Homo sapiens: one gene and its partners. The protein of the gene in region 4 purifies or fractionates together with the protein of the main gene of each other region. This does not show direct contact. Each region holds a gene or a part of one and is shown on either strand. Other genes may lie near its edges.

Region 1 (3,500 bases), on a different chromosome or scaffold from region 4:
GTTTGTGGAGAACAAAGTAGCAACAAAGATCAAGGTACCAAAGCGGATATGGACCTATAATCATGTCCTTTCGTTAAGGAGTCTGAAAGACTTAACTGAGTCAGGCGGCTTGAGTGAGGAACCAGAAGATAAGGCTGGGAAGAAGGTTGCAGTTGGATTTGAAGGACTTGGAATTTGGATTTTTATCCCATTAGGCTTGAGGAAACAAAGTTTTGAGGAGTACCGAAATGATGAAAACAATGTAGGGAGGTAAGTTAGGAGGTATTGCACTTATCCAAGCAAGAGCTGATGAGGGTCTGGAGCTAGCCCAGATCTTCCCTAAGCGCCTACCCATACACCAGTATCAATAGTGGGTATGAAGAAACAACATCAAATGTGTTAGGATGTCTCAGAATGTCTTTCATCTTGTATTTAGGAAAGAATACTTTGGACACATGGCTTGCACTGCAGGAGTGGTATCCTTACCCACTTGGATATTAAATAAACCATTTATGCAATAAATGAACAAAAAGTAGGAAAGTCAGGAGAGGGCGGTAGCTTTGGTAAAGGTATCCTGTTTGGCTTCCGATTTGTTGAGGTAACCGAGGGACATCTGCCTGGAAATGCAGTTGGAAATGTGGCAGCAACATCTGAAGGCAAGGAACAGATTTGTCAGCTTTCTTCACAGAGATGATGGTTGAAAGCTCTTTGCTCTTTATGAGAACTAAAGCTTAGAAAAAGTAGTTGAGATGGGACTTCATTTAAAAAGCCTTCCCTAGAAGGTTTCTATAACAGTGACCTCCTGAAAGCCAAACCCAAAGGCTGGTTTTCAGACCTTGATCTCTTAGCAGTTGTGCAGTGTTTTACATGTGTAATGGTTTGAATGTGGTTCCTCCCACATCGCAGGAGGGCGATTTGGCAGTATATGTATATATTTTTGGGGGGGGACGGAGTCTTGCTCTGTCGCCCAGGCTGCAGTTCAGTGGCTCGATCTCTGCTAACTGCAACCTCCGCCTCCCGGGTTCAAGCGATTCTCCTGTCTCAGCCTCCCGAGTAGCTGGGATTACAGGTGCATGCTACCATGCCCAGCTGATTTTCACTATGTTGGCCTGGCTGGTCTCCAACTCTTGACCTCAGGTGATCCACCTGCCCCCGCCCCTCAAAGTGCTGGGATTACAGGTGTGAGCCACTGCGCCTGGCGGTAGTATATTTCAAATGGTTATTCTCCATACCCAGTAGCTTTGTTTTTTATCCAAAGAAAATGATCAGAGGGATAATCAAGTACTTTTAGATAGTGCTATGATGAGTGTCTCTTATAGAGTAGAGAAATACCCTAGTTAAATCCATTTAAGGAAATACTATGCAGCCATAAATATCATGTTTTAGTAGAATATTTAAAGGCATCAAAATGCTTGTAACATTAAGTGGAAAAATCAGATTATAACAATATATAAACAGTGCAACCCCAGATTTGCTTTTAAAATGTACATTTGTATGCAGAATATTGATGGTAGTTATTTTTGAATATTATGTTGGACTTAAGATTGACTTTCATTTTCTTCCTTAAAACGTCAAACTTTGGCCGGGTGCAGTGGCTCACGCCTGTAATCCCAGCACTTTGGGAGGCCGAGGCGGGCGGATCGCGAGGTCAGGAGATCGAGACCATCCTGGCTAACACAGTAAAACCCCGTCTCTACTAAAAATACAAAAAATTAGCCGGGCGAGGTGGTGGGCGCCTGTAGTCCCAGCTACTTGGGAGGCTGAGGCAGGAGAATGGCGTGAACCCTGGGGGCCGGAGCCTGCAGTGAGCCGAGATTGTGCCACTGCACTCCAGCCTGGGCGACAGCGAGACTCTGTCTCAAAAAACAACAACAACAAAACAAGAACAAAAACAAAAAACTTCAAACTTTTACCATGGGTACATATTACTGTTCAAGTTAGAGAAGAAGAAAAGAAGGCTTTTTTTTTTCTTTTTTTAAAAGCAAAGACCATAAATATGTTACTAAAGAAACAAAGGGAAAAATAGTTTCCTCCTGTGACCTCCATAACTTCATCCTTTTTGTGTTTCCTTTACTCCTTGGCTGACTCCTTTTTCTCTTGCTTCCTGGCAAAATTGAGGCCACTGTTTGAGATAAAGCATTATGGACCCGTAGCTCAGTTCATATAAAAATCAATTCCAGGGTTGAAACATATAGCTACATGTTCTAGATTTAGAAGTTATGAGGAATTAATGAACAGGAATTATTTCCAATTCAAATACATTTCCCTCTGAGAAAGTAGTGAAGGAATCTCTAAGTCCACGATTTAGGTAGAGTCCCACCTTCTAGCAGGTGAGTCTCTCTGCCTGCCTGTCTCTGGTCAGCCTTCTGGCTTTTACTTTGTCATCTGCTTTATCTGCAGGGTTATCACTGTTCTTTAGAGCCAATCCCTGGAGGTGTGGAAATGCCACTTGAGTGCACAGGTTTCTATCAATTTTCCTGGAAAGGTGATAACATAAGCCATGTGTCCATGATAGGAGATGTTCCCAGTCTTCTAACCAAATTTATACTATCCTTTTTGCAAAACTGGAGGGCAGGTTTCTTTCTCTGTAGCAGTTGACACAACTGAATCACAAAGTGCCCTGGCTGAGACCTCGGAAGAGTTCCAGCCCTTTACAGGTAGTCATAGAAGCTTATTATCCTGCAGGTTTTGGAGAAAATGGTGTTTTTTGCTGATTAATGAGGCTTTGGTAAACACAGTAGTTAGAAAGGACATGGAAGGCTTTCTACTAGTCCCATGTTTGCTGGACACTGGGGAAACAAGTTGAATAAACCATCGATTCTGTCTAGAGGAGCTCCCAGTCAAGTTGGAGGACATAGGAGTAGAAGTATGGCTTTATCTGTCACAAAGAGAGATGCATGCTTATGAGAGGTACTGAGGAGTCATAGCTAGAACAGATTACCTGACCAGATGAGTAGGATCTTAGAAAGGGTCTTACAATAATTAAATTATGTTGGAGTTCAAAATGAATGCTTTCAAGGAATTCTAAATTAAGGGCCAGGGCAAGAATCTTTGTCTTATCCTAGTGGCTTTTGTTGTTGACTGCTTGATTGATGGAGAAGATCTCACTATGTTGCCCAGGTTGGACTCAAACTCCTGGGCACAAGCAATCCTCCCACCTTGGGCTTCCAAAGTGCCCGGATCACAGATGTGAGCCACCACGCCAAGCCCTTGGTGGCTTTTGGATATGGCTAAACTCAGTTGCACTTCTGAATAGGAGCCAGAAAAATATTCTAAAGTGGTATGATAGCACATGATAACCTCTATCTCCTTAAACCAGACTTTTTGTTATTGACTGCCCTTCCAGGGGTGGGTGATAATGCTTATCCTTGAAAAAGTTAACCTTCAGCTGAAGCTGCATATGCTTATTACAATGCAAATCTGATTCTAGTCACTTGATAAACTCCTTCAGTTTTTCACCTTAACGTTTGGATAAAATCTAAGCTTCTAGAAGCTCGGCTGTTGTTCAGCTTTTCAGCTCA
Region 2 (4,124 bases), about 50 Mb from region 4:
TTTGGGAGGCCGAGGAGGGTGGATTACCTGAGGTCAGGAGTTTGAGACCAGCCTGGCCCACATAGGGAAACCCCATCTCTACTAAAAATACAAAAATTAGTCAGGTGTGGTGGCTGACACCTATAATCCCAGCTACTTGGGAAGCTGAGGCAGGGAGAATCACTTGAACCGGGGAGGTGGAGGTTGCAGTGAGCTGAGATCATGCCACTGCACTCCAGCCTGGGCGACAGGGTGAGATTCTGTCTCAAACAAACAAATTTAAAAGCTCCGAATCCTCCAAAAATACCAAGATTTTCCTGTCGGTAACTAGAGATGGGTACTGATGATTATTTTTAATAGGTGATTTTCAAAGATGTGAACGTTATCCATGGAGATTTAAGTCTCCAAAAGGAAAAAAAATGCATACCTTTATACTAAAACTTCATCACCAGTCAAATTTGGATCATCACTAAATTGGCTTCTACACCTCTCTCCTAATATAAGGTACTTGTGTAAGTTTGCAGTTGTGAGACACTTATTTCCTCATTTTTAATGTCTTCTCAGTAGGGCCACTGATATAGTCACTATTTGACTGACCAGAATGGTTGGCACTGGTGATTGGCTCATAAAGTGCCCTCGATTTAGGGGGCTCAATTATCAAAGGTTTAAATCCTAGCCCAAACCATTGCTGTGATGGGGGTTAATCAATGAACCACTCAGCTTCACTTGCAAAAGCGGGATCACAATAGCCGCTTTCGTCATGACCCAGCCTAGGTGAGATTTAGTACTTAAGTACACTGCCAGGCACACAAGGTTAATTTAACAATTTAACACATTTGTTTCCTCATCCATTTCTCCAAACCTTCCAACTAATCCTAACGTTCGTTCGGCCAAATGGGCCAGGAATTCACTTAAACAAAAACAAAAAACAAAACAAACAAAAAAACACTCCCTGGGGCTTGGGGAAGGAGGCACCGCCGCCCATGTCGCAGTCTGGGGGTGGCTCAGTCCTCAGCACCCAGATCTACGGCCATAATGCTCTTCGAGGCCAAGGAGCCCGGATGCGGGGCGTTGCCGAAGGCGTCTTGCTCAGGCTGCGGGAAAGGAGAGGGGTGGGAGCGGGGTGGGGGCATCGCGACCCAGGGCAAGGCGGCGAGTCGCCGTCTTCGAGTCCCACCTGTCCGAAGCGGGGTGAGAAAAGGCAAAACATGGCAAAGCCATGCACCTCCCAGGGTGGGCAACTCACGGCCGGTGAACGCCGGACCCTTAGCAGTTTCCAGACCTTTGGAACCGGAAGCGGAGCCTGAGAGCGCGCCCGAGAGGGCGTGAACGGGACCGCTTTCCCGGAAGTGCTTGCGGCCTCTGCCCAGCGAGCTGCCCCGGGGTCTCTCTGGTTTCCTAATCAGGGCAACGCCGCGGGAGAGAACCTTTACCTTGGCTGCACTAAGTTCTCGGTGCCACTCCCTGGCAGGGCGGGACCTTGTTTAGGCCCTGTGATCGCGCGGTTCGTAGTAGCGCAAGGCGCAGAGTGGACCTTGACCCGCCTAGGGCGGGAAGAGTTTGGCCCGCCGGGTCCCAAAGGGCAGAATGGACGGGCTCCTAAATCCCAGGGAATCCTCTAAATTCATTGCAGAAAACAGTCGGGATGTGTTTATTGACAGCGGAGGCGTACGGAGGGTGGCAGAGCTGCTGCTGGCCAAGGCGGCGGGGCCAGAGCTGCGCGTGGAGGGGTGGAAAGCCCTTCATGAGCTGAACCCCAGGGCGGCCGACGAGGCCGCGGTCAACTGGGTGTTCGTGACAGACACGCTCAACTTCTCCTTTTGGTCGGAGCAGGACGAGCACAAGTGTGTGGTGAGGTACAGAGGGAAAACATACAGTGGGTACTGGTCCCTGTGCGCCGCCGTCAACAGAGCCCTCGACGAAGGTTGGTGCCATACTTGCCATCGGACCTAACGGCCTTTGAGGTTTCCATTTACTTGGGGTGTGTGTAGGGGAGTTCCAAGGAGCGGGTTGGGAGATGGAATAATGGAAAGCGAACCTGAAGTTCGTTGCAAGTCCTTATGCTTAAAATAGAAGTATGAAAAGGGGCATATTTTAGTGGAAAATGATGTTAATATTTATCATTGCAGCATAAAAGTTACAGTAGCATAAAAGTCAGTTTTATAAAGAATGCCATTTGAATGACACCTGAAGAACAAAAGGACCGATGTTATAAAGCAATTTACTCAGAATACATCTGATGTAATATTGCAATAGTTAGAAATGGGTGAATAAGTACAGATGAACAAGTAGAAAATGAGTTTTGCTTTAGATTTTTTATTCTTCCACTTTTGGTGCATTCCTATACCACTCATTTGGTTTCATATTAATTCCATGTTGTAAAAGCAAGGGTTTAATGCATATGGAAGTATGACATTGGTCCTCTGAATTTTATTTTTTCACTAAAGGGATACCAATAACTAGTGCCTCGTACTACGCGACAGTGACCCTGGATCAGGTTCGGAATATACTTCGTTCTGACACAGACGTTTCCATGCCTTTAGTAGAAGAGAGGCATCGGATTCTCAATGAAACCGGGAAAATTCTGCTGGAGAAGTTTGGAGGCTCTTTTCTCAACTGCGTCCGAGAAAGTGAGAATAGTGCGCAGAAGTTAATGCACCTGGTGGTTGAAAGTTTTCCTTCTTACAGAGATGTGACTCTGTTTGAGGTGAGTTGCTTCTGTTGGGGATTTTAGAAGTCTTAATCATCTCAGAGTTAACTCTTTTACTTCCAGAACTCATTTTAAGAATAAAAACTTAAATTTTTAAATGTATTCCTTGTGGAAGAAACTAACAAAATCAAGTAGTGTTTCAAAGTCATTTCTTATGTTTTCTTTTGTTTGTTTGTTTGAGACAGAGTTTTGCTCTTGTTGCGCAGGCTGGAGTGCAGTGGCGTGATCTTGGCTCACCGCAACCTCTGCCTCCCGGGTTCAAGCGATTCTCCTGCCTCAGCCTCCCGAGTAGCTTGGATTACAGGGATGCGCCACCAAGCCCGGCTAATTTTATGTATTTTTAGTAGAGACGGGGTTTCACTATGTTGGCCAGGCTGGTCTCAAACTCCCGACCTCAGGTAATCTGGTCGCCTCAGCCTCCCAAAGTGTTGTGATTACAGGCGTGAACCACCACGCTGGCGTCATTTCTTTCCTTTTTTTTTTTTTTTTTTTTTTTTTGAGATGGACTCTTACTCTGTCACCCAGGCTAGAGTGCAGTGGCGCGATCTTGGCTCACTGCAAACTCCGCCTCCCGGGTTCAGGTGATTCACCTGCCTCAGTCTCCCGACTAGCTGGGATTACAGGTGCCCGCCACTGCGCTAGGCTAATTTTTGTATTTTTAGTAGAGACGGGGTTTCACCATGTTGGCCAGGCTGGTCTTGAATTCCTGACCTCGTGATCCACCCACCTCGGTCTCCCAAAGTGCTGGGATTACAGGCGTGAGCCACTGTGCCGGGCCTTTTTTTTTTCTTTCCCTGAGATGGAGTCTTGCTCTGACTCCCAGGCTGGAGTGCAGTGGCACTATCTCAGCTCACTGCAACCTCCGCCTCCCGGGTTCAAGCGATTCTCCTGCCTTTGCCTCCTGAGTAGCTGGGACTACAGGCGCATGCCACCACACCTGGCTAAGTTTTTTTGTATTTTTAGTAGAGATGGAGTTTCATCTCATTTCTTATGTTTTCTAATCAATATTTCATTCTTTACTTCCTTTTTTTTCCTTTTAAAATGTTTCAAACCTAAAAAACATGGAACCCTCCATGTAATGTTCTCCTTATGGAAAATTAAGTATTTTTAGTACTTCAAGAAGGTTACTTTATTGGTTGAAGATCAGAATGTATACTAACCTCTCCCTAATAAAAAGTATTTCTGGCCAGACTCGGTGGCTCACTCCTGTAATCCCAGCACTTTGGGAGGCCTAGGTAGGTGGATCAACTGAGGTCAGGAGCTCAAGACCAGCCTAGCAACATGGTGAAACCCCATCTCTACTAAAAATACAAAAATTAGCTGGGTATGGTTGCACGCACCTGTAGTCCCAGCTACTTAGGAGGCTGAGGCAGGAGAATCGCTTGAACCCGAGAGGTGGAGGCTGCAGTGAGCCGAGATTGCACCACTGCACTCC
Region 3 (2,599 bases), on a different chromosome or scaffold from region 4:
TACAGTCTCCACTTAAGCACAATGATATAAGTGGTTTTGTTTGAAAACTACAGCTATGTAGCACTTGTGCTACACTGCACCTCTGCATTGTAAAGGGATACTGCCAGTGCTCAAAACAAAATGTGAAATGAGTCATTTGGAAACAAGGTGGGGGTGTTAGGGCAACCTCGAGGATTTGCAGCATTGAAACTTTCCCCAGTAGTTCTTGGAAAAGCTGACCGCAGAATTTGGTAGTGTACACTTAGCATTTGTGAGTGTGTGTGTGTGTTTAAACCAAAAACTAACAGTGTTGCAACATTGTTGAAAGGGCTCGTGTTTTTCAGTGGTCATCAACTGCACTCCATCAAACTCACCTCCATTTCACCAAGGAGCTCTAAAGTAAGGAGAGTGGGCTTTATTTAAATGAACAGCATTTTAACCAGATACTTTGTCCTAATGTATGTTCCTTTTCTTCATCTGTTTTTTCATACTAAATGTATTTGATAGTGGACATGTTGGATATTATACAAAAAAATCATTAATTCATTTCTGTTCCAAAACCTTTGATCAGAACGATCTGTGGAAGAGTAACTCCATTTCTATATGAGTGAGTGTCTCCTTGCTTTAGATTTCTGGTGAACCCTGTGGTTATGAATACTTGTGTGTGATTTAAAAAAAAAAAGATACATTTTACATTTTATCGAATTGCTGTTCACACTGGAGTATTATATATAAATATATATATTTGAGGCCCAAGGCCTGAAAAATATTAGTATACAACTTGGTATCTTAGTCTTACTATGTACTTTTTGAAAGTATTCCTCGCAGGAGAAAGAATTTAAAATACCCATTTTATTCATGCCTTTCTTTTTAAAGAATTCTCTATCCAGTTATACTGTAGTCTTTTTAGTGCTGATTTTTTAATTCCTGAATTTTTGCTGCTCATGACCAGTTTTAATACCACTGTGTTTTCCTTCTATTAAACCAGAAGAAGTAAACAGCATAATTGGCAACTCTTGAGCTTTTCTTGTGGCAGGCACCTTTTACCCTTGGTGCTCCAAATCCCCCATCTAGGAAAGAAAATTTTTTCAAGTCAAATAACATTGATCACATATTCCTTGAAATCATTTACCAACACTGTATGGAGCATTAGGATTTAAATATGAATTTGTCTTAAAGGCAATTCCTTTTTGCTTCTGTATTATCTGGAAAAGCATGAGAGAGGTGACACCTCAACAAACTGATCAGAGAAAATAAGCAGTTACTACCCTGATAGGCACCTTCCCAATCCTGTTGCTTTTGACCATTGTCTGTCCAACGGACACACCTCAAACAAACAAAACTACCAAATAGATGACAGATCAGAATAAAGGTGAGAGGTCTGGTCCCCATTGAAGGCTGCTACAGTCTTCAAAGAGGTGAAGGAGTTCATAAGAGAACAACAGTAGGAAAGTTGAGAGCCAAGGGTAGGAGAGTTGCCCAAAAGACTTCCCCTACTACTTTAGGGTACTGAAAACTCAAAGGATCAGCTACAGCTTTATCTAAGTATTTACTAAATGCTACATGAGGGTGTCCCTGTCCAGCTTTCTGGCACATGAGTCCTGTGTGGAGAGTTACCTCCTCTTCCAGGGACTGTGCTGTTGGGAACTTTGGGCAAGTCACTTACCTCTTTGTGCCTCAATTTCTGTATAATATTTCTAAGCTACCTCACTGAGGTGGTATGAAGATTCACTAATGTATGTAGCGTGTTTGTCAATCCTCCAGTGAAAAGCACTATCTAGATCACATTTTGGATCACATTAGCCAAATGCAGTAAATGGCCAAATTAGATGTGTGCTGAAGACAATCAGTCACTGGGTCTATATTAAACAGCAACCAGAGCAACAAATGGCAAACAATTTCTATTTTCAAGTTTCTTTGCATATTTTTTTGGTGCAAAACCATTTATAAACTTTTTTTTCTAACACTAGTGTCTACAGCAGCATTCAAAAAAATTCTGTTACCTTTTCTGTATTAGGATTTAAAGTCTATTTCTTATTGTATACCTGATTGAAGCTGTTCTTGGAGATGAATGTTTTAAATGTCTATATCCAAAAAATAAACATTTTGATGTAACTGTGGACTGTCTTTTTTTTTTTTCAATTTTCTAGTTATAATAGTTTTTTTATTCTAAGTGGCTCCGTGGAAATTATTTTTCAGAGATAAGGTGTCACTGTATATGCTGTGAATAAGCAGCTATATTATGTAGTAAGTAAACCTAGTTTGCTAAATGGTGCTAAGGACTGCTCAATTACAGTCCTGGCCTTCTTCACTATCAACTGGGACTTTTGACTATGAACACCTTGGGATAATGAACATTCCACTTAATTTGGGAGACTTGAGCTTTAGCCTCGTTAACATGAAATTATTCCAGCAGAATTCCTCTAAAAGATGTCACATTAAAAAGGCTTCCAATGGGTGTAGACCAAAAAAAATGAGAGCATACTTAGGGACACAAAACACATAATTATTTGGTTAGATCCACAGTAATGGGAAGTAAAGTTAAATACCAACAATGTTTATAAAAGGACCTGAGTTCAAGTTTTATAATCAATGGCCCCCTTGTTAATACAGCCATAGG
Region 4 (3,500 bases):
CCCATTGCTGCAGCATCCTGTGCGTGACCTGGATCTGTTACTTCACTAGGAGTTACAAAGTAGTGACTTTCCAAATGTTATCCTTCTTTCCACGTTTATGAGCTCCAGTTCTTCTTGAAAAAGCTCTAAAGCACATGCCTTTATCATCTGTGTGGTTACCCTAGCATGCGGCCTGCAGAGGGAAGGCTCAGAGGTTCCATTCCTCCCTTTATCAGGGATCAGAATGAGCTGGTGCCCTGAGGTTTGTGGCTGTGTGTGTGCCGAGAGGACGGAGAACAGGCCAGCCCAGATCCACACCTCTCAGTGAACCAAAAGTGACCCTGCCCCCTTTGCAGGCCCCGCGTGCCTACTGGTCCCAGCCTGTTGTCTGCCCCAGCTTGCCTTTCTACGTGGAAACTTGCCCAGTGCAATCTCACTGATTTTTGAAAATATATTTGATGCGTTTCAGTCCACTGCAGTCATGATTCTTTTTGATGTTCAAATGATCCCACTAGGGAGCAAACCGAGGCCTGGAGAGAAATGACCCGCCCAGGCCCCAGCACCAGTAAGATGAGGGATCTGGGTCAGGTCAGGGCTGGATCCGCTGCTACCATCCACCTTGGGGCCCCTGCCACCCTACCCCGACTGCTGAACCCCATGTCTCCTCCACGTGAATGCCTTGAATGCCACAGCTCCTTTGGGGAAGCACACACTGTGCTGATAGCAGGTTTGGGGGTGCTGGCCCAGCCATGGCCCTCTTCTTTGTGCCCTGAGCCAAGAGGCTGGTGGCCACTTCTGAGCCCTCTGCTGCTGTCCTTTCGGCCACAGTTTATTGGGTTTGGGATGGACGTGCACCCCAGGCTGGGCCAGCCGGCCTCTCTCCTGGGAAATGGAATTAAGGCCTGAGACACTGGCCGGTCCCTGCTGGTCGCTTGACCTTGGGTAGAGACATGAGTGCTCAGGCTGTGGCCAGGCTGTAGCCACGGGTGGGGTTTTCAGCCACATGTTGGAGAGTCAGAAGGCGCTGGTCCCCGGAGGGAGCGAGGAAGGCCACAGCTGCCGGAGAGATTGCTGTTGTGGTCCTGACTCAGGTGCCGATCCCTCCCCGACACCTGCAGAGTGACTCCTGCTGTGTGTATGTCACCTACTGTGTGTATGTCACCTGGAGGGCATTTTTGCTATTTGCACCCAGGTAATTATGGCCCCACTTCATCAATGAGGGCACTCACACAGCTTGGGAGGGGTTGAGGGAGGTGGAGGCTCGTGCCCGAGTGTTGTCTGTGGTCATGCAGGGATTAAAATTCAGCACCACCCTCCACTACGGGCCATGGCTGAGGGCCCACTGCTAGGGCTTACTGATAGCAATGGGGGCCACTGCTTTCCCATAGGGAAGCATGGGCCTGGGTGGAGGGGCTCCCACTGCTGTCAGGCTGAGACTGCAGGGAGGATGGAGACTGTAGGTGGCCATGGCTGGGCTGAGGTGCTCCCTCAGGGACAGGTACTGGGGAGCCATACAGGACACCCAGGCTAAACCCCCAAGTGCCAGCCTGGCTTTGCCTCTGGTTAGCTGCAAGAATGGGCCTTCAGTGCCTCCATTCCTCTGCCTCAGTTCCCTCCTCTATAAAATGGGAGAACCCCAGGGGTTCTGTGGGACAGCAGCTGCACCATGCTCAGTGCTGTGCTGATGTTAGGACCGTGTCCCTCCCTGGGTCTGAGTCCTTCATCGGGTCCCTGAGGGAGCTGGCCCCGCTCGCCGCAAAGCTCTCTCTCAGGTCTGAGATGCAGCCGGTCCCTGGCTCCGCCTGGCTGCAGCTCCTCTGGGCCCAGGTCTCCTCCAGCGGAGAGCAGCCTGGCGGCGTGACGGGAAGGGTGCCGGCTCAGGCCAGGTGCCCAGGGCTGTCAGCAGCCACCCTCCAACACCCAGGCTGGTCCAGCTGGAGCCTCTCAGCCTCGCTCTGCAGATACACGCCTGCCGAGGAGCAGCAACGCCCGAGACGGCGCCAGGTCCCAGGGCCAGGCATGGCCGACAGACACACACTCCGCTGGCAGCTCCACCAGCGCCCAGCCTGACATCAGACCACAGTTCACTCCGAGCAGCTCCCAAAAACACGGCCTCCCTGGGCCTCCACCCTCCTGCCTCCCCTCTGCTCTAGCTGTGCCCCACCCTCTGGGATGCCCATCCCCCCCCCGGACCTACCACGCCATCAAAGCCCAGCACGTGCCCTCCTCTCCCAGGAAGCCTTCCTGAACTTTAATACACACCACAGAACTTCAAAACTTCAAACGCCAGAGCTGAGAGGGACCAGGTCCCACCCCTTCATTTAATGGGGGAAGAATATGGACCACCTGCTGCCCTCCCTGAGTGCTTACCTTCAGCCTCCTCCCTGGGGACCCCAGGACTCTACTCAGCTGTGGCCCAGGTGATACGAGTCTGCGGGGCCTCTGTCCTGCTCTACTCTTGCGGGTGACCTTGGGTCAGAGGCCTCTCCCTGGGTTCAGTTTTCTTATCTGTACAATGGGTGTGGCAGGGTTTAGACGCTGATTCCTCCCAACTCTGGGGGACTTGGATTTTTAATTGGTCCTGCCAGGAATCCAGATGATTTAGACACCCAACAAAGTCAGGATTATGAAAATGTAAACAAACATCAAGTGATAAGGCGAAAAAGCCAGATGACACCCTCCAAGGGTAGGCAGAGAACGGGAAGGGCTACAGACACTTTGGCTCCCAAGGATACTTGTGCTCTGAGAAAGCTGAGTGCCTGAGAGAACAGGGGAGGACTTGGCTGCTCAGGGTGGTAACGGATGGGGGAGGAACCGAGGGAAACTTCCTGGAGGAGGAAGCTTCTGAGCCGGGCTGTGAAGGATGGGCTGGGAGAAGAAGGAGAGGGCCTGTTGGTGCTGGGAACAGCACAGGCCAAGCCTCGGAGGCAGAGCCATGCGGGTCAGGCCCAGCAACAGCCTGGCAGAGGCTACTCTGCCGCCTGCTTGTGACTCGAGCCCCACCCCTCTTCCAGCTCCCTGAAGCCTCCGCACTGCCAGCCAAGGCAATTTGGCGAGAATAGCGCTGAATTGTTTATCTGCCCCCTGGGACCATAAATGGTTTTAAAGCTTTATAAATGGCTTTGCTTCCCTGTTCCCACCCCGGGTTTTTACAGGGACAGGTTGTGAGATGGGGCTCCCCTGTGCGTCCCCCACCCCAGTCCACAGAGTCTGTGGCAAGGGGGCCTGGGCGGGCAACAGTCCCCTTCTGAGGGCCCCATCTCGTCTCTGTAGCCGGCAGGGAGAGCCAGCTGCGTTTACAAGCTTCAGTTGTCTCCTGCGGCACCGGCACCGAGGAATGAATGGCGTGGAGCTGGGGGTGGGGCAGGAAACACCTGGCAGCAGAGCCAGACACGGGCCTCCACCTGCCTCCCCCGGGAGCCCCCTCCCCACACCCACCTTTCCCTGGCAGGAGACCCCCTGCTAACCACCATCTGGGCCACACGTCCCGTGCTGAATTTCAGACTCTGCTAGTTTTCTGT

The links. The genes of interacting proteins can lie anywhere in the genome.
Region 1: the proteins of FAM163B (region 4) and CCNB2 purify together in Homo sapiens (affinity purification with mass spectrometry; one large-scale study listed by BioGRID and IntAct). This does not show direct contact.
Region 2: the proteins of FAM163B (region 4) and QNG1 purify together in Homo sapiens (affinity purification with mass spectrometry; one large-scale study listed by BioGRID and IntAct). This does not show direct contact.
Region 3: the proteins of FAM163B (region 4) and PLXNC1 purify together in Homo sapiens (affinity purification with mass spectrometry; one large-scale study listed by BioGRID and IntAct). This does not show direct contact.

What each region holds. Positions count from the first base shown.
Region 1 is NC_000015.10:59,108,146-59,111,645, forward strand, and holds part of CCNB2 (G2/mitotic-specific cyclin-B2), read left to right. Parts: intron 1-3,500. UniProt on the Homo sapiens protein: Essential for the control of the cell cycle at the G2/M (mitosis) transition.
Region 2 is NC_000009.12:83,953,943-83,958,066, reverse strand, and holds the start of QNG1 (queuosine 5'-phosphate N-glycosylase/hydrolase), read left to right. Parts: upstream 1-1,324; 5' UTR 1,325-1,566; coding exon 1,567-1,903; intron 1,904-2,426; coding exon 2,427-2,686; intron 2,687-4,124.
Region 3 is NC_000012.12:94,305,577-94,308,175, forward strand, and holds the end of PLXNC1 (plexin-C1 precursor), read left to right. Parts: 3' UTR 1-2,099; downstream 2,100-2,599.
Region 4 is NC_000009.12:133,581,890-133,585,389, forward strand, and holds part of FAM163B (protein FAM163B), read right to left. Parts: intron 2,987-3,500; exon of another isoform or gene 2,350-2,986; intron 451-2,349; exon of another isoform or gene 1-450.